Linked DNA regions of Homo sapiens: region 2 is linked to region 1. Evidence: fine-mapped expression QTL. A gene starts in region 1. The other region holds a variant in brackets. All regions are shown on one strand. Distances are between the middles of the regions.

Region 1 (2,920 bases):
ACTTGGGAGGACGAGGCAGGAGAATCATTTGAACCTGGGAGGCAGAGGTTGCAGTGAGCTGAGGTCATACCATTGCATTCTAGTCTGGGCAACAAGAGTGAAACTCTATCTCAAAATACATATCTATATATATTTGGTATTATTTTTGCCACCTGTCTTATTTTGTCTACCATATATTTCTACTTCATTTCCTGTCTTTTGTTGAATTGCAATGATTATCTGAAGGGTTTATAATACTGGGAACGTTCACTGCTCTGTTTCTGTCTGAGTTGTCTGCAGATGCTAACCTATAGTAAATCTAACTTTTTCCTTATATACTGTAATAAGAAGGCATATACCGGCCGGGCACGGTGGCTCATGCCTGTAATCCCAGCACTTTGGGAGGCCGAGGCGGGTGGATCACGAGGTCAGGAGATCGAGACCATCCTGGCGAACACAGTAAAACCCCATCTCTACTAAAAATACAAAAAAATTAGCCGGGTGTGGTGGCAGGCACCTGTAGTCCCAGCTACTCAGGAGGCTGAGGCAGGAGAATGACGTGAACCCGGGAGGCAGAGCTTGCAGTGAGCCGAGATTGCGCTACTGCACTCCAGCCTGGGCATCAGAGCGAGACTCTGTCTCAAAAAAAAAAAAAAAAAAGAAGGCATATACCACTAAACGATAAAAAAAAATTTAAATTTGCTTTTATGTCCTCTTCCTTTATTTTCATCTTCCTGAATGTGATCATCTGTAATTTTAATATCCGTTCATTTTTTCATTATCAAAATTGGATTAGACTATACTAAGGATGGGAAGGTCTACAGAGCAAACAAACTCATAGAATGCTGGTAGGAATGTCAGTAATTATATACACAAGGGAAAACCGTTGAGTGTTATGTAGCAAACATGGTGACCTGTGTTTGCTGTTTGACCTATAATTTATAAATCTAGAGAAATGTGTGCTTATATACACCAAACTACACAAAAACACTTGTTCCTGGAAGCATCATTTATGTCAGACAAAAACAAGACACATAAGTGGCAGTCAACTCTACCATTCACATGCATTTGTTTGGAAAAAGATGAAGCTTCTTCCCTAGATGATGTTTGGTGCAAGCTACGCATGATGATATCAATAATTTTGAGCTGCTTTCAGCTGCTGAAGCTTAACTCTGTAATCATGTCATTCTTCTCCAGGTATCATTTATTCTTTATTTTTGAGGATCTTTCTTTTCCCTCTGGAGACACCTCAGTTCACAATCCTGGGGCGATATGGCAGAATCTTTTTTTTCGGATTTTGGCTTGTTGTGGTATCTGAAGGAGCTCAGAAAGGAAGAGTTTTGGAAATTTAAGGAGCTCCTCAAACAACCTTTGGAGAAATTTGAACTCAAGCCAATCCCCTGGGCTGAGCTGAAGAAGGCCTCCAAAGAAGATGTAGCAAAGCTGCTGGACAAACATTACCCAGGAAAGCAGGCATGGGAGGTAACACTGAACCTGTTTCTACAGATCAATAGGAAAGATCTCTGGACAAAGGCTCAGGAAGAGATGAGAAGTAAGTGCTGGATGATGGGGCGAGGACCCATGGGGGAAGCCTGGGAACAAGGTGATAGCATTGTTAAATGAGTGGCCACCCCCTCCATCAGATGAGAATGTGTGTGGGTCAAGGTGAGAGTTGAAGGTAGGAAGAGTTGCAGGCCAGGGCTGTTCATATGTGGGCCAGCGATGAACTGGGGACAGATGGCGTCCTGATACCAACTGTTCACCTATGGAGTGTCTTCCCATTTTTCCACCCCAAGTGGAGTCGTTGTTATAGGAGATGAGTGGCCAGTTAGTGTCTGCATTGCCAGGTCTACTGAGATGGAATTCTAGTATGGTAGTTGCCTATCTTTTTTTTTTTTTTTTTTTTTTTTTTAGAGAAAGGGTCTTGCCATGTTGCTCAGGCTGGTCTTGAACTCCCAGGCTCAAGTGATCCACCTGCCTAGGCATCCCAAAGTGCTGTGATTACAGGAGTGAGCCACCATGCCTAACTGCCTGTCCTTTTTGACCAGACATGTACCAAGGAGTAGGTAGAATCTTAAGACAATCAGACAGCGTATGTCCCGGGTACTACAGGAAGCATTCTTGCGAGCTTGTTTGGAGGTTCTAGTAGGGGAGCACAGCTTCTCTTCTGCCCGCGATGGAAGGACCTTCCTCTATGGGCAAAGGTTGTCATCGTCTTTGACCCAGGGGAGACTTTCAGGACGGACGCATATGGAGCAGTGAGGGAGGAAGTGGACACCCACCCAGCTGGCCACATCAGCCGAATTAGCCCTGGGGCGACCAATGGGGTGACAGACATCACAGCCAGGTTGTCCTCACGTCCTGGAAGCATTCTTTCTGCATAATGTCTTTTCATTCTTATCACAACCCAGGAAAGGTTTACAAGTGAGAAAACTGGACAAAACAGTGTTCCCATGTGTTACATGACTTTTCCAAAAGTGACAGATCTGACTCCGAACCAGTTCTGCTGGACTCATTGATGGGGTCTACACCCTCCTCTCGGGGGATACTTAGGAAAAACTAAATATATTCCCTATTAGGTATCTAGTAATTAGCATTTGTTTCTGATGATTGTTATCTTCTCCCTTTACTTTTGAGTTCCATCAACTTCTGTTACGTTTACTTCTGTTTTGTTCATGTTTCTTCTTTGTGTTGGTAATTCTAATTTGAGACCTTATTTCGTATCCCCACATGCTTGAGGGTATTTTATTTGGTTTGGAGTTGCTTGCTGTGTTAGTTTTTTGTTTTTTTTTTTGTTTTTGTTTTATTTTTTTGAGACGGAGTCTTGCTCTGTTGCCCAGGTTGGAGGGCAGTGACATGATCTCGGTTCACTGCAACTTCTGCCTCCCAGGTTCAAGCGATTCTCCTTCCTCAGCTTCCCGAGTAGCTGGGATTACAGGCA
Region 2 (2,920 bases), 29 kb after region 1:
ATTATAAAATAATAATAATAATGTCTCCCTTCTCTTCAACCACCATCCCCACACCCAAAACATGTCATCTCCACAGTAGCAAGCATTCAGAGCAGTTATTTCTGGGTAACTTTCTCATAGTGTCGCTGTAGCTGAAAGGAAACTTAGCCATCTTCCCTACCTCTGAAGATTTAAGATAAACTCCTACTTCTCCTGTGTCTAAATGTCTACGAAATTTTGTGACCTGCTAATCCTCCTCAACTTCTTTTTATAATTGGAGATAAAAAGGCATATAACTATGAACACCTGGCAAGAAGGAAGGACACGGGAGAGGGGAGAAGAGAATTGCAAATGTTAGTTATATTCTTTCAGGAAGGCCTATGTTCCAGTCTTACCAATTATTTGTGAACTTATTTTTTATATTTTCCTGATGCTGAGAACATTTAGAAGTTATAAAGAGACAGAGATTCAACGTATAAAGCAAGAACGATAGCTGTTGAGGGAGTAGAAGCCAGGAGGAAGTCGTGTCCAGTAAGCTAAGGGAAAAAATAAACAAGAAAGTGTAATTAACTGTATTCAATGCTAACTGGGTAAGTAGGATAGAATGTATTTAACAAATTGATGTTATTGGTGACTACAAAAACCAGCTTTGTTGAGGTGGGTTCAGGGGACAATGACACGAAAGGAACTGAAAATAGCGAAAACAGACAAGAACGTTTGACATATTTATGGGTGTAGCATGTGCTTTAATTATTTCTTAGAAAATGGGCAGGTTGTAAATGGAAGAGGCTGAATATTGGTAATTGTAGAAGTTGGTGATGGGTACATGAATTCATTATATTAGTGTCTCTGAGAAAAGCTCATGTTTTTTTTTTTTAAGCAAGCACATTATAAGAAGCAATAGATGTGCCAGGGCATATGAACATCAGATGAATGGAAGTTATCCTGTGTTTTTCTTTTTAACTTAAATTCATCTTTTTTGAATTAAATCTTAATTGATACATCCTGTATATGAAATTTCACTTTATGGTATAAATCAGAGGCTTCCTATCCTATAGGAAAGATTCATGCTTGTTTTTCAAATTCAGTACAATTCTCCCAGTGATTTCTAGGAAAGAATAAAGAGGAGAGGAGAGGTAGACATCAGAATGTAGAGAGGCAATACTGTGTAAAAATGAAAAACAAAAAAAAAAACTTTATTTCTATTTTCCCAGGCTGCACAAATCTGGCTTTGATGAAGAAACTCAGAAGATCCTGATGTCTGTGGAAGAAAAAATTCCCCATCTGACCATTTCACATGGACCTTGGATTGACGAGGAATACAAGATCAGGGGTGTGCTCCTCTGATGGGGAACACCCTGAAGTAGTCGTCTCACAAA[G/C]GCTTTCCTTGGCCACAGTGGGACCTTCACCTGGCACCTCTATCCTGTAATTGCACATCATGGCAGCAGGGCTGTGATTTCAGAGGTACTCCCTAAGTGTTCTAGCAATATGATTATGGAGTGTGATTCAGTGTACATGCTGATTGTCTTTGCCTCGGTCCTATATCCCCTTGTCTTTAGAAATCCCATCCTGCCTTGTGATATTTAGAAGCACAAGTACGTTAAACAAGTGCTAAACGCTCTGGAAAGCATGGCTTTATTTTCTTAATGGATGTCTTGGTGTGTAGGAGCATGCATTTGTAGGCACCACAATCCGGATACTTCTGACACAGAAGTGATGCTAGAATGTGTCTATAGATTGTATTGCTAGCATCCAGACTTTCTAGTTTGTCCAGATTTCGATTTGATCAATTTTCTTGTCCAATAAAAAAGCATTTCCAAATCTCTACTTATCCTTTTATATATGACACCCCAATAGATTTTTCTAAAAATTCAGTATTATTCAAATATATCTACACTGTTTATATTTCAAAACACAATATTAAACACTTCATTGTCATAATTAAACATTCCCTAGTTCCCTACGGTAAATTGCTGATGCCTTATTGGCCTGGTCTAAAATTTTTATTACAAAACATAAAAGCAAGATGATGCAGAAATTGGATTATATAATCAGTTATCATTAGATTGAAATATAATCTCAGATTCTCCTGAGAATGAGAAATTGTGGACCTACTCTTGGATCTCTTGGCACACTCCTGGATTCTTTGGATATTTGGGAGGCTGAATTTTCTATAATCTTCAATGTAGAGTGCTCGCACTTACTTGCTTAATTTTACTTCCAGGTTTTCCATATGTTTAAGCAATTATGAACTTTTTTGCCCAATTTTCTATTTGCTTTTGGCCTTTTCCCACAACTTTAAAGAATGCTGGCATAGGCCAGGAGTGGTGGCTCACGCCTGTAATTCCAGCACTTTGGGAGGTCCACGCGGGCGGATCACCAGGTCAGGACTTTAAGACCTGTAAACACGAGTTTACACTCAAGACTGGACAAGGGTTTCCATAGGACAAAAGACACCATTGTGTGGGGGATTCCAGTGGAAAGAAGAACCAAGGAGTTTGCCACGGCCATGTGGGTGAGAATCTTGTGTGTGGGCCTCATTTGATGCTCAGTCAAGATGGGAAAGATATTATGGAAGAACAGAATGGCATTGGCCAGAGTCCCCACCCCAGTCTGCAAAGGAAAGATGGTTTTTATGGCCACTTCCCCTATGGTTCTTAGGACATTGTTCTGAAAAGACATGGGGAGGGTTTCCAGGTGGTCTGAACTGAAGAGCTGGCTATGTCTGTGATGAGATCAGCACTCTTAGCTTTTCATCTTGGAAAGTTATTTTGGTCTTTCCTTTACCCGAAATAGAGACACTGTCATATTCCACAGAAGGGGCTCAACATGGAGAACATACCCCTGACACCAGTTTCACATTTGACTGGTTTTTGGGTATTTATTTTCATTTGTTATTTGTTCTTTCTTTTGTTTTAGAGTCAGGGTCTGCTTTTTGGCT

Evidence for each region.
Region 2: its variant is fine-mapped to the expression of NLRP9 in gastroesophageal junction (GTEx, PIP above 0.99). The same link has a PIP of 0.9 or more in sigmoid colon.

Annotation. Positions count from the first base shown.
Region 1 is chr19:55,736,706-55,739,625 of GRCh38, reverse strand. It overlaps NLRP9 (NLR family pyrin domain containing 9), which reads left to right and starts at 1,224. Exons shown (of 9, transcript NM_176820.4): 1 at 1,224-1,531. The coding sequence starts at 1,252. It also overlaps the pseudogene RN7SKP109.
Region 2 is chr19:55,707,318-55,710,237 of GRCh38, reverse strand. EPN1 (epsin 1) reads right to left here. Exons shown (of 11, transcript NM_001130072.2): 11 at 705-2,920. It overlaps NLRP9 (NLR family pyrin domain containing 9), which reads left to right. Exons shown (of 9, transcript NM_176820.4): 9 at 1,194-1,800. The coding sequence ends at 1,326. It also overlaps the pseudogene VN1R106P. Among named protein-coding and RNA genes, the nearest start is that of NLRP9, 30 kb to the left of the region's middle. The variant G/C (reference allele first, on the strand shown) is at 1,359.